Regions from separate parts of the Homo sapiens genome. Here region 2 is linked to region 1. The links come from fine-mapping of genetic effects on gene expression. A gene starts in region 1. The other region holds a variant in brackets. All regions are shown on one strand. Distances are between the middles of the regions.

Region 1 (5,369 bases):
TCTCAATAATGTCCACCTTAACCACCTGATTTCCTCATTTAATACTGTAGCTTTCTACCTCACCATTTTGATCACTTTATCCTGCTATAATATTATATGCTATTTATCATCTTCTAAGACACTATGTATTTTCTAACTTTTATAGCGTGTTTCCTCCCCTTATCCCCCAAACAGAAACTCCAGTAAGCAGAGATCTTTGTTTTATTCCCGATACATTCCAAATACCTAAAACTATGCCTGCTACATAGTAAGTACTCAATAAATACTTGTTGAATGAGGAATTGGGTGAGTGGAATATTATCCTGGCTGAGGATTCCAGAGTTCTTGGCTCTGTAGCACTCAGACAATGCCAGTGAGAGGAACTGGTCCTAAGAAGATGGAAGCTGGCCTTTTCCAGTGACTTCTTCTTAGAAGGCTCCTCTGGGCTTCTCCAGAGAGTCCAAATGTGAATAGCCCATCTCTAGGGTTCCACCTCTTACTCTAGCAAGATATGGGAAGGTGAGGCTCCAGCAGTGGGGGTGATAGGAATATTCCTTGAAGAGAAATCTTCTTCCCCACCCATAACTAACCAAGTTCCAATCTCTCTCCTCCAGTGCACCCAGACCTTACCTTGGGACATGAGTTGTCGGAGCACACCTTGTAAGCGTTGGAGAACTGGGGAGGTGACTTGCAAAAGGGGCCGGGCCTGCCCCACTCCCACCTGGCACTGCCCAAACAAGCCATCTAAGGGCACAAAAGTGGTGTCAGCAGGGGGCTTGAATAAGAGGCCTTCCAAAGTCCAGGTTGCAAATGGACTGTACTCTCTTCACTTTCTCCCCTACCTCTCCTCCTCCAGGCAAGTCTTCCTTCTTCTCAAGCCCAGTAGCCCTCTTCCTTTCTGGGCCTTCTCTCCCCTTCTTGTTTTTTATTGCCCCTCTCCCCCCGATCTTGTGAGTTCTATGCTTGGGCCTCACTCACCCTGAATACAGACTTCCAGGTGAGAGCAGAGCCTGCGGTCAAATAGACAGCCTGTAGAGGAAAAGGTGAGCAGAGGCTCAGACACCCACTCACAGAGAATGGGCAGATGGGTGGACAGGCTGGGAACGGGAGAAGCAGATGCAATTTATTCTTTCATTCTAAAGAAGGCCTTAAGCTGGGAGGAGAGTAGGAATCAGGCCTGAATTTCTTAAAAGGAAGCATGGGATCTTGTTTTGGATTTTAAGAATTTGTGAGTCTGTATCCTTAAAAGCCTCTGTTTGCTTAACTGAGTGATAGGGAAGAAACCTTCCAGGTGCAGGGAGAGAGATTCATAGAATTACTGCAGGAGAGGTTTTGGCCAAATTCTGAAAGAGGAATTTCCTTCCCAAATATGGAAAAGCATCCTATAATGGCCTGGAACTCAGAAGAGGTTCTAGCACACTTCCCCCGGTCGGGGGAAAGAGGGCATGGGTGGGGCTGGGGAGGGTGTCTCTTAGGCATCTCTCCTCGCGCTGTCCCGAGCCGCTGGCGCTGTCCGCGGTGCTGAAGCTCTGAGTCTGGCGCCGCCAAGGGCTGGCCTTGGAGGCGGTTACCAGAGAGGAAGGGGTCACAGAGCGAGGACTCTCCACTAGACCTGAGCCCTCTGTTGTATTCTGCCAACCCACAGCGTCACAGGAAGTACTCTGCCTCTCGGGCCTCCAAGCCCGGGTGGGGAAAGAGGGCGCCAGGCGGCGAGGCTGCGCCCCTTCCCCCACGCGCCACCCTCCCATCCCCCACCCCCTGTCCGTGAGTCAGCGCTGACTGTCTCTGTCCGCACAGATGTGAGTCAGCACCAGGCCTGGCTGTGGGGAGGGGGACAAGAGAGGACCCTCCCCTCTTCATCCTCTTCTGCCCCCTCCCCGTGCTGTCCCCCGTTACAGGAGATCAGATCGCTGCAATCAGCTTCTCTAGGCTTACGGAGAAACCCTGGCCTCTCTCTCTGCCCAGCTGGGACTCTATGTCTGCGGCCCAGGCTTCCACTGCCCAGAGATCACCGTTCCCTCATTCTCCCCGCCACCTCCCCTTCCCATTCCTCAGCGCCTGTCACCACCTCCCAGGCGCCTCGGAGCAAGTGGCTTCTCCTGTGGTCTCGCAGCCGGTCTCTAAGTCCCTCTGCCCACATGCACCCCGTGTCCTTCTCCCGAACCTGCAATTTTCCCCAGAGCCCAATTCTCTTAGGTCCCGCCCCCGTATTCCCAGCCCCACCTCCAGGCCTACGCCCCTTTCCTCCGAGACGCCCTCTCACCTTCCTCATCTCGCATGCCTCCCCCAACCCATATTCTCCCCGAGCTTCATGACATTTCACCCTCACCCCCACCGAGTTTCGCTCCAGGCCCCAAGCTGCTCCCCGCCCCCCACCACCCGCCAGCCCAAGTTTCCTCCTGACCGTGGGCACTAACGGCGCTGCAGCCCCCCGGGCGGCTGCTCAGCAGCAGGAGGCAGAGGAGCAGCCGGAGACCCCCGGATCCCCCGAGACCCCCAGGCCGCCGCGGGCGCCGCATCTTTCCGAGCTCCGGGCGCTCGCTCCCGGGCCGGAGCCGCAGCGACGCTGGCGGGAGCCTGCCAGAGGGGCTGAGGCGGGGCTTGCCGCTCCCCACCTCCCTACGAGGCGGGGTCTACATGCCCCTCTCGCTGCAACGCGGCCAACCGCAGGCGGGTGCTGACGACACCTCCACCCCCGGCTCGTAAGCTAATTTGCGTCACATATGGCGTAAGAGCCCTGTCGGAGCGGGGGACCTACCTAGCCCATCCCTCCTCCATCAAATAGTAGGCGCCTCGCTAGAATTCCCACTTGGCCCCATCCCTGTAGCCCTCTTCTAGGATCACCTCTGTCTCCCCGCCCCAGGGTGGGTGAAAAGGGTTAAGTTAAGTGGGGGGCCAGGAAAGATAGGTGGGTCCAGAACGATAAACCCGAAGACAAGAAGCAGAAAAGTGGGTAGAATAAGTACTCTTACTCATTGTCATTGAAGATACTGTTCTCTTCCTTAAGAAAAAATGGTTAGGCATGCCTAGATTCCAGTTCTAGCAGGGCATCTACTAAGGGTATGACCTTGGGCACCTTGTTTAACTTGTCTGCGTCCAAGTTTCCTGATCTGCAAAGTGGAGGTGTTAATAGTTACTACCCGCCTCACACAGTGATTGTGAAGATTTTGTTCGTTACACTAATATGGATCACTTAGAAGGATGACTGGACTGGTGCATACTACATGCTCCATACATATTAGCTGTCATCATTAGCTTTTATTTATTTTTTATTGAGATGGAGTCTTGCTCTGTTGGCCAGGCTGGATACTGGCGTGATCTTGGCTCACTGCAATGTCCACCTTCTGGGTTCAAGCCATTCTCCTGCCTCAGCCTCCCTAGTAGCTGGAATTACAGGCGCACAGCACCTTGCCCGGCTAATTTTTGCATTTTTATTGGAGATGGGATTTCACCTTGTTGGCCAGGATGGTCTTGAACTCTTGACCTCAGGTGATCCAACGGCCTTCGCCTCCCAAAATGCTGGGATTACAGGTGTGAGCTACCGGGCCTGGCCTCATCATTAGCTTTGACTCTCCTTTCTCTCCGTCTGTGCCACCTCGAGGCTATCAATCATTTTATGGTTTCTCCCTGCAAAATACATCTCCCATCAGTCCACTTCTGTCCATCCTCACTACCTGAACTGAAACACTGTGCTCTTTCACCACGACCACTGCAGCAATCAGCTAGTAACTGCTCTTTTGCTTCCACTCTAGTCATCCAATAAGTAGGGGAGTGAGCTTCTTAAGTTCAGATTTGATCTCCTTCCTCTCTTGCTTTCCAGTAAAATAAAATAAAATTTAAAAAGGACAGAAATGCATAATGAATACTTACATACTCATCATCCATACTTAATGGTTATTGATGTTTTACAATATTTGCTTCTTTTTAGTATTTAAACATGAATGATAGACATCATGACATTTCTCTTCTAAATATTTCATTATGCATCTCCAAGAAATAAGGACATTTTCCTGCATAACCTAAGTGCTGTTATGACACCTAAAAAAATTTACAATAATTCCTTAATATAATTTTTTAAATTTTTTTTTTTATTTTTTTGAGAAGGAGTCTTGCGCTCTTTTGCCCAGGCCAGACTGCAGTGGCACTATCTTGGCTCACTGCAAGCTCCCCCTCCCAGGTTCACGCCATTCTCCTGCCTCAGCCTCCTGAGTAGCTGGGATTACAGGTGCCTGCCACTGCACCCGGCTAATTTTTTGTATTTTTAGTAGAGACGGGGTTTCACCGTGTTAGCCAAGATGGTCTCGATCTCCTGACCTCGTGATGCACCCACCTCGGCCTCCCAAAGTGCTAGGATCACAGGCGTGAGCCACCGCGCCCGGGCATTCCTTAATATAATTTAATGCTCAGTTCATATTCAAATTTCTCAGATTGTTTCCCCAAAAATGCCTTTTCTTTTCAGGTGTTTTGTTCAAAATAACAGTCAATTAAGAACAACCACGGCCTTTGTTATGTTTCTTAATCTCTGTAAATTAGCATAGACACCATATCCTCTCTCCCCTCCCCCATTTTTGACATTGTCATGTTGATAGACCAGGTCAATTTTTCTTTAGAACTCTTCTTCTGGGTTTATCTGATTTTTTTCTTCATGTTGTATTTCCCTGTATTTCTCCAGTGTATAACCTGTATATCACCTGTATTTCCTGTAAACTAGAAGTTATATATGAAGTATTGACTGTATCAAATTAAAGAATTTTTAAAGCAAAATGCCTCTCATTGCATCATTTCAGGAAGTACATGATGTCTGACTGTTCTATTAGTGATGTTAAAATTGATCACTGGTTTAAGGTAGAGACAGCCAGATCTCTGTATGTAAAGCTGTGGTTTTCTAATGTGACCAGCATGTAATTCTTGGATGATACTTTGGCACTGTGAGACTATCTAGTTCCTCATCAACTTTTCACCTAATGGTTTCACTATTCACTGGTGATCCATCCTTGACTAAATGATTTCATTAGAGGTTGCAAAATGGTGATTTTTATAATCCTATCATTCAATTCACGTTTATCGCTTATTTTACTTTGTAAAGAAGGGCTTTCTCTCATCAACTGGGTTTAGTTTACACTAAAATGCAATTCCAACTGGAAAGGTAACATATATTCTCAGCTTTTTCTCTTTACCCTTCTGCAAAATAATGAGTCTGTGTAGTGTAGTGACCTCTAACAGTGACTAATACATTTTTAAACATTTATTTATTTATTTAGAGTCAGGGTCTCACTCTATCACCCAGTCTGGAGTGCAGTGACAAGATCATAGCTCACTGCAGCCTTCAACTCCTGGGCTCAAGCAATCCTTCTGCCCCAGCCTCCTGAGCAGCTACCATTGTGAGCAAC
Region 2 (5,369 bases), 28 kb before region 1:
CGTCGTCCTGGTGTGTGCCCAAAATAGCCGGCTCCGCCCTCTTCTCCCGGCAGCCCCTGCAGGCCCCCACCCCCCCAGGGGACAGGCGGAGCCGGCCTTCTCCCCGTCTCTAGTAGTTTCCGCACCGCTGACGCATGCCTGCGCGCACAGCTGGGCCGGGCGCGTCCTACGCAGCAGCCGCGAGCCGGGCTGCGGGTGCCAGACGGTTCCCGGCGGGGGGCAGGGGCGGGGCGCCGCAGGAGGCCGGGACTCCTGGCGGAGGAGGTGCGGCCGGGGGCCCGGGTCAGGCTGGGGGCCCTGGATCGGACTGCTGGAGTTGGGGGGCCCCGATAGGGCTCCTGGGCCTGGGCGTCGAGATAGCTCTTGGCCCCGGCCTGCGGGGGCAGATAAGGCTGCCGGAGGGAGCCTAGTCACCGGCCGCAAGCAGAGCCCGGTGTGCTCCGCTTCCAACTGGGAGCGCCTTCCGCCACCCGGGGAGGGGGACTGCTGCAGCCACAGGGTGGGGCTCTTGGTTCTTTCCGCCTGACTCCTTCTCTTCTGCAGCCCCAAGGAGGCCCGCCTGACGACTGACCAGTTGCCATGGCATCCTACTACGAGATCCTAGACGTGCCGCGAAGTGCGTCCGCTGATGACATCAAGAAGGCGTAAGTGCCTCCGTATGCAACAGAAGACCTCTCACCCTCCACCCGCCACCACCATGGGGCACTTCAGAGTGACACCTGTAGGTGTCTGAGGGAACCAGGTCGTTAGAAAGCACTGGGGTGCTTCTTCCGAGTGACACCTGCAGGGAGGAAAGAGACCCCTGGTAGAGTACAAGGAGAACGTCCAGAGAGTGAAGTAGTTAGTTCCTCTGGGAGCTGCACTGTGTTATGGGTTGTTCTCCAGTTGATCTTCCCCTCCTCCTCCTCCTCCTCCTCCTTTCCCCTCCCCTCCCCCTTCCCCCTAGATTTGGGCATTCTCAGGCTGCAGTGCAAAGATGCAGTGCAAAGAGGCTCTATGAGGAGGAGGGGCCGGTGTCCCTGTACTCTTCGAGGCCACATGTGCCCCAACCTTTGCAGCCCCAGTCCAGTGAGCCCTAGGGAGGGGCTAGGGACCCTGGCATTGTATCCGCTTGTACATGTGGTCCCAGCACTGGTGGCGGAGGAGAGAGGGTGGAACTTGATGAAAATATCACAGCAGCGGCAGCCCTAGCAGCTGGGGTGGACTGGGACCCGGGGGTGAAAGGACAGTGATAGGCTAATGGGAAAACAGGTCGTTCGGTTCCTGGGTGGGAAGTGCCTGCATTTGTCCCCCGACTCTCTCCTCTGCACCCACTTTCTGCAGGTATCGGCGCAAGGCTCTCCAGTGGCACCCAGACAAAAACCCAGATAATAAAGAGTTTGCTGAGAAGAAATTTAAGGAGGTGGCCGAGGCATATGAAGTGCTGTCTGACAGTAAGGGCCGGGGTCAGGCAGGACCCAGCACATCACCCCCTACTTCATGCCCCAGCTCACATTTTCTTAAAGCAATGTCTCTGCCACCTAGTTTCCTCTGTGCCTTTTTCCAGCCTGACATTTAAGCTCCCCCCTCCCACAGGGACAGCTCAGTGTCTGCTCCCCAGAGTCTGGTAGGAGTGGCTGGCATGAGACCTGAAAGGGGAAGGAAGCAGGGCAGGTAACTCATGTGAGCTGAGCCTCCTGCGTGCCAGGCATTGGTGGGTGTCATCTCCATGAGTTCTCACAGCCGTCCTATGAGGCAGGTTCTATCACCCCTATTTTACAGGCAAGGAAACTGAGGCTGAGAGAGGTGAAGTAACTTGCTCAAGGCCACGCAGAGCTGGAATATGAATCCAGGTCTGCCTTTTTATTGATTCATTCGAAAAGTAATTCAGTGAATGGTGACAGTGTCCGGCACTCGCTGGGTGCTGGGGAAACTGGAGGACAAGCAGGCACTGTCTTTGCCCAGAGGGGCAGGGAAGACCAACACCTACCAGGCACACACACAGACACAGTTACAGCTTGTGAAGAGTATTCCGAGGGAAGAAACAGGGCAGGTGGAGTGCTAGGGAATAATGTGCACTTGCTTTAGTTCTGGTGGTTGTAGAAGGCCTCTCCGAGAAGGTGACATTTAGGCTAAGCCCTGGTGAATAATAATGTAGTAATCATTAGCTAACATTTATTGAACACTTTCTATGTGTCAGGCACTGGTAGGCAGTTTACGTGGATGGTCTCATTTGATCTGTGCAACAACCCTGTGCGGTAGGTGTTGTGATGACAGCCATTTTCCAGATGAGAAGAGGCCAGCTGTGTGAAAGGCTGAGTTGCTGCCTAAACCTATAGCCCGTGTCCCCTGGGTCCCCTGCTGTGCCTGCTTTCCCCCGCCAAGTGTCAGAGTGTCAGTCTCTGGACAATCCTTTGAACGTCCTAGCCTGGGAGGGGAGCCCATCCCAGAGGGAGGGTGAAATGATCTGGTCTCTTTTTGCAGAGCACAAGCGGGAGATTTACGACCGCTATGGCCGGGAAGGGCTGACAGGGACAGGTAGGTGGAGTGGTGAGGCCCAGGAATGGAGGTGGGGCAGGGAGGAGAGGGGCAGGGCAGATTCTTGCAATGGAGGCTCTCTCAGGCTCCTGGCTGTGCCTTAGGTGAGGTCCCCCGCTCAGGGCAGGATGCATGCCCTAAGCTCTCTCCTCATCCT[G/A]CCTTTCCAGGAACTGGCCCATCTCGGGCAGAAGCTGGCAGTGGTGGGCCTGGCTTCACCTTCACCTTCCGCAGCCCCGAGGAGGTCTTCCGGGAATTCTTTGGGAGTGGAGACCCTTTTGCAGAGCTCTTTGGTGAGTGGACTCTGGAAGCCTCTGAATGGCTCAACTTCCCCCTCCAGGCCTGTCCTTCCATCAGCTGGGAGGCCCTGAGGTGGAAGGCTGAGAGGGGACGGGAATGCCACGGACAGAAGATTTTGTGGAGCTGGGTCCAGTGAGAGCCGGGACAGAACCTCACGTGTGCCAGAACCCCCGTAATCCAACAGTGACACTTCACAGACTCACCTTATTAAATTACAACAATAATACATTGTTAGACTTCTATAGTAACAGCCATGAAAGCAAGACTCAAAGCATCTTGTGACAATATTGTTATTATTACCTATAAAACAGATAGTGGTATTTTTTAATGATAGATATGTGCCAAATATTTTACATTTCGTAAGTCTCTAGTGAATCCTGACAGGTGGGCAATTTTCTCCCCATTTGCAGATGAGAAAACTGAGGCACAGTTAATAGCCCAGAGTCACATAACACATGGCAGAGCTGGACTCCTAGCTGTGTCTGCCTGTCATCGCGTCATGATGATTTGCCTGTACTGAAAGAGCCATCTGTCCTCCATCCCTCTTCCCCCTCCTTCCTTCCTTTATTCTTTATTGTGGACAGAATTAACCAGTGAGTGTTTTCGAATTCAACATTAAAAAGGAATTTATAAATAAGCCCAACTAAAAAGCGGAAAAGAAAAACCCTACCCAGTTGCTTAGTGGTTTATACTTCCAGACTTGGGCTCACACACTTTTGAGGGGAAATGTCATTACCAGATGACTGCTAATCTGTTTACTTGTTGCAGATGACCTGGGCCCCTTCTCAGAGCTTCAGAACCGGGGTTCCCGACACTCAGGCCCCTTCTTTACCTTCTCTTCCTCCTTCCCTGGGCACTCCGGTAAGTTCTGCCCCTTCCCACGTTTGCAAGCTCCGATTCCTGGAACCCCTGGCTTGAGCTTGTTGCTTTTCCAAGCCTGTCTCCTGTGTTGGGAGCCCTGCCTCCAGCAGCCCTGCGAGGCGGCCTGGAGCCTCGGTGACCACAACAGGCAGCGCAGTCTTCTTCTAACCACCTCTCCTCCTCCTCCCTTGTCCCGATGCCAGATTTCTCCTCCTCATCTTTCTCCTTCAGTCCTGGGGCTGGTGCTTTTCGCTCTGTTTCTACATCTACCACCTTTGTCCAAGGACGCCGCATCACCACACGCAGGTGAGAGCTCCTTCTGGGGCCATAGAGGGGTGAGAGGTCTGCTGGGGAGCTGTGTTCAAATAGAAAGTTGGCTCCTTGAGGGCAGGGCCCAGTCTGCGCTCTCTACTGCGGTGGCCAGAACTGGGACCAGCGCCTGCAGGATTCTGTCACTGCTCGTTGCCTGAACTGTGCTGTCTCCCACAGAATCATGGAGAACGGGCAGGAGCGGGTGGAAGTGGAGGAGGATGGGCAGCTGAAGTCAGTCACAATCAATGGTGAGGAGCAGCTCCCCTACCCAGCCCCTGGCAGGAAGCCCCAGCCCCAACCTCAGCAGCCTCCTCCCCAAACTGCTGCTCTCTGAACTCACTTAGGGCTTGGGAGGGAGTGGCAACAGGCCAGACTGGTAGGATCAGAGATGGCAATGTCGGGAAGGGGGTGAAGGAGTCTCACGAAGCCATCGCCGTCACTGTGAGTGGGGTGCCTTACATTTGCAAAGCACTTTACTATTTTTAAAGCACTTCCAGATATACGATATCCTCTGTATTCTTCAAGCATCTGGGGGAGTACACAGGGCAGATGGTATCCACTTAGTTTTAATTTGGGGAGCCTGAGCTGCAGCATAGTTAAATGACCCTAACTTCCAAGTAGCCCAGGCCCAAGACTCTTTCCTTCCAAGTAAGGAGTAGAGCCAGGAGTCAAACTCAGGACGCACGATTCCCGGAGCAGAACTGCCCCTGCAACACCATGCTGTGCAGGGCCGTCACCACAGCTAACCTTTCACGCCTGCTGACTCCCAGCACTGCGTACCAAGCCCTTTACATGGGCTGACATATTTAATCATTGGAACAATTTGAGTATGAAGGCACTATCATCATTCCCATTTTCTTTTTTTTCTTTTTTTGAAACAGGGTCGTGCTCAGCCCAGCACGATTATGGCTCACTACAGCCTCGACCTCCTCGGCTCAAGCAGTCCTCCCACTTCAGCCCCCTGTGTAGCTGGGACTACAGGCGTGTGCTACCATGCCCAGCTAATTTTTAAACTATTTTGTAGAGATGGGGTCTCACTATGTTGCCTAGGCTAGTCTCGAACTTCTAGGCTCAAGTGATCCTTCTACCTCGGCCTCCCAAAGTGTTGGGATTACAGGCATGAGCCACTGTGCCCGGCCATCATTCCCACTTTCTAGATGAGGAAAGGGAGGGGTAGGGATGTTGAGTGACTTGCCTAAGGGTAGGAGCTTCTACCTGGTAGAGCTGAATACTTCCTTGTGCTCAAAATCACAAGCCTAGGTGCCAAAATGCATGTGTGCCAATTCCAAATAAGAGACTCTAAGTGGTCAGGGTTGTTACTGTGTGAGGCAGCCTGGCAGTAATACCCCTGGCTCAGGTTGGGGCCTCATGGTGGCTGTGAC

What was found.
Region 2: its variant is fine-mapped to the expression of PTPRN in whole blood (TOPMed, PIP 0.94).

Annotation. Positions count from the first base shown.
Region 1 is chr2:219,306,835-219,312,203 of GRCh38, forward strand. It overlaps PTPRN (protein tyrosine phosphatase receptor type N), which reads right to left and starts at 2,567. Exons shown (of 23, transcript NM_002846.4): 1 at 2,384-2,567; 2 at 958-1,008; 3 at 610-723. The coding sequence starts at 2,498.
Region 2 is chr2:219,279,255-219,284,623 of GRCh38, forward strand. It overlaps DNAJB2 (DnaJ heat shock protein family (Hsp40) member B2), which reads left to right and starts at 112. Exons shown (of 9, transcript NM_006736.6): 1 at 112-264; 2 at 544-644; 3 at 1,324-1,433; 4 at 2,464-2,517; 5 at 2,685-2,807; 6 at 3,583-3,675; 7 at 3,879-3,981; 8 at 4,165-4,235. The coding sequence starts at 580. RefSeq lists a silencer at 1-436. The variant G/A (reference allele first, on the strand shown) is at 2,675.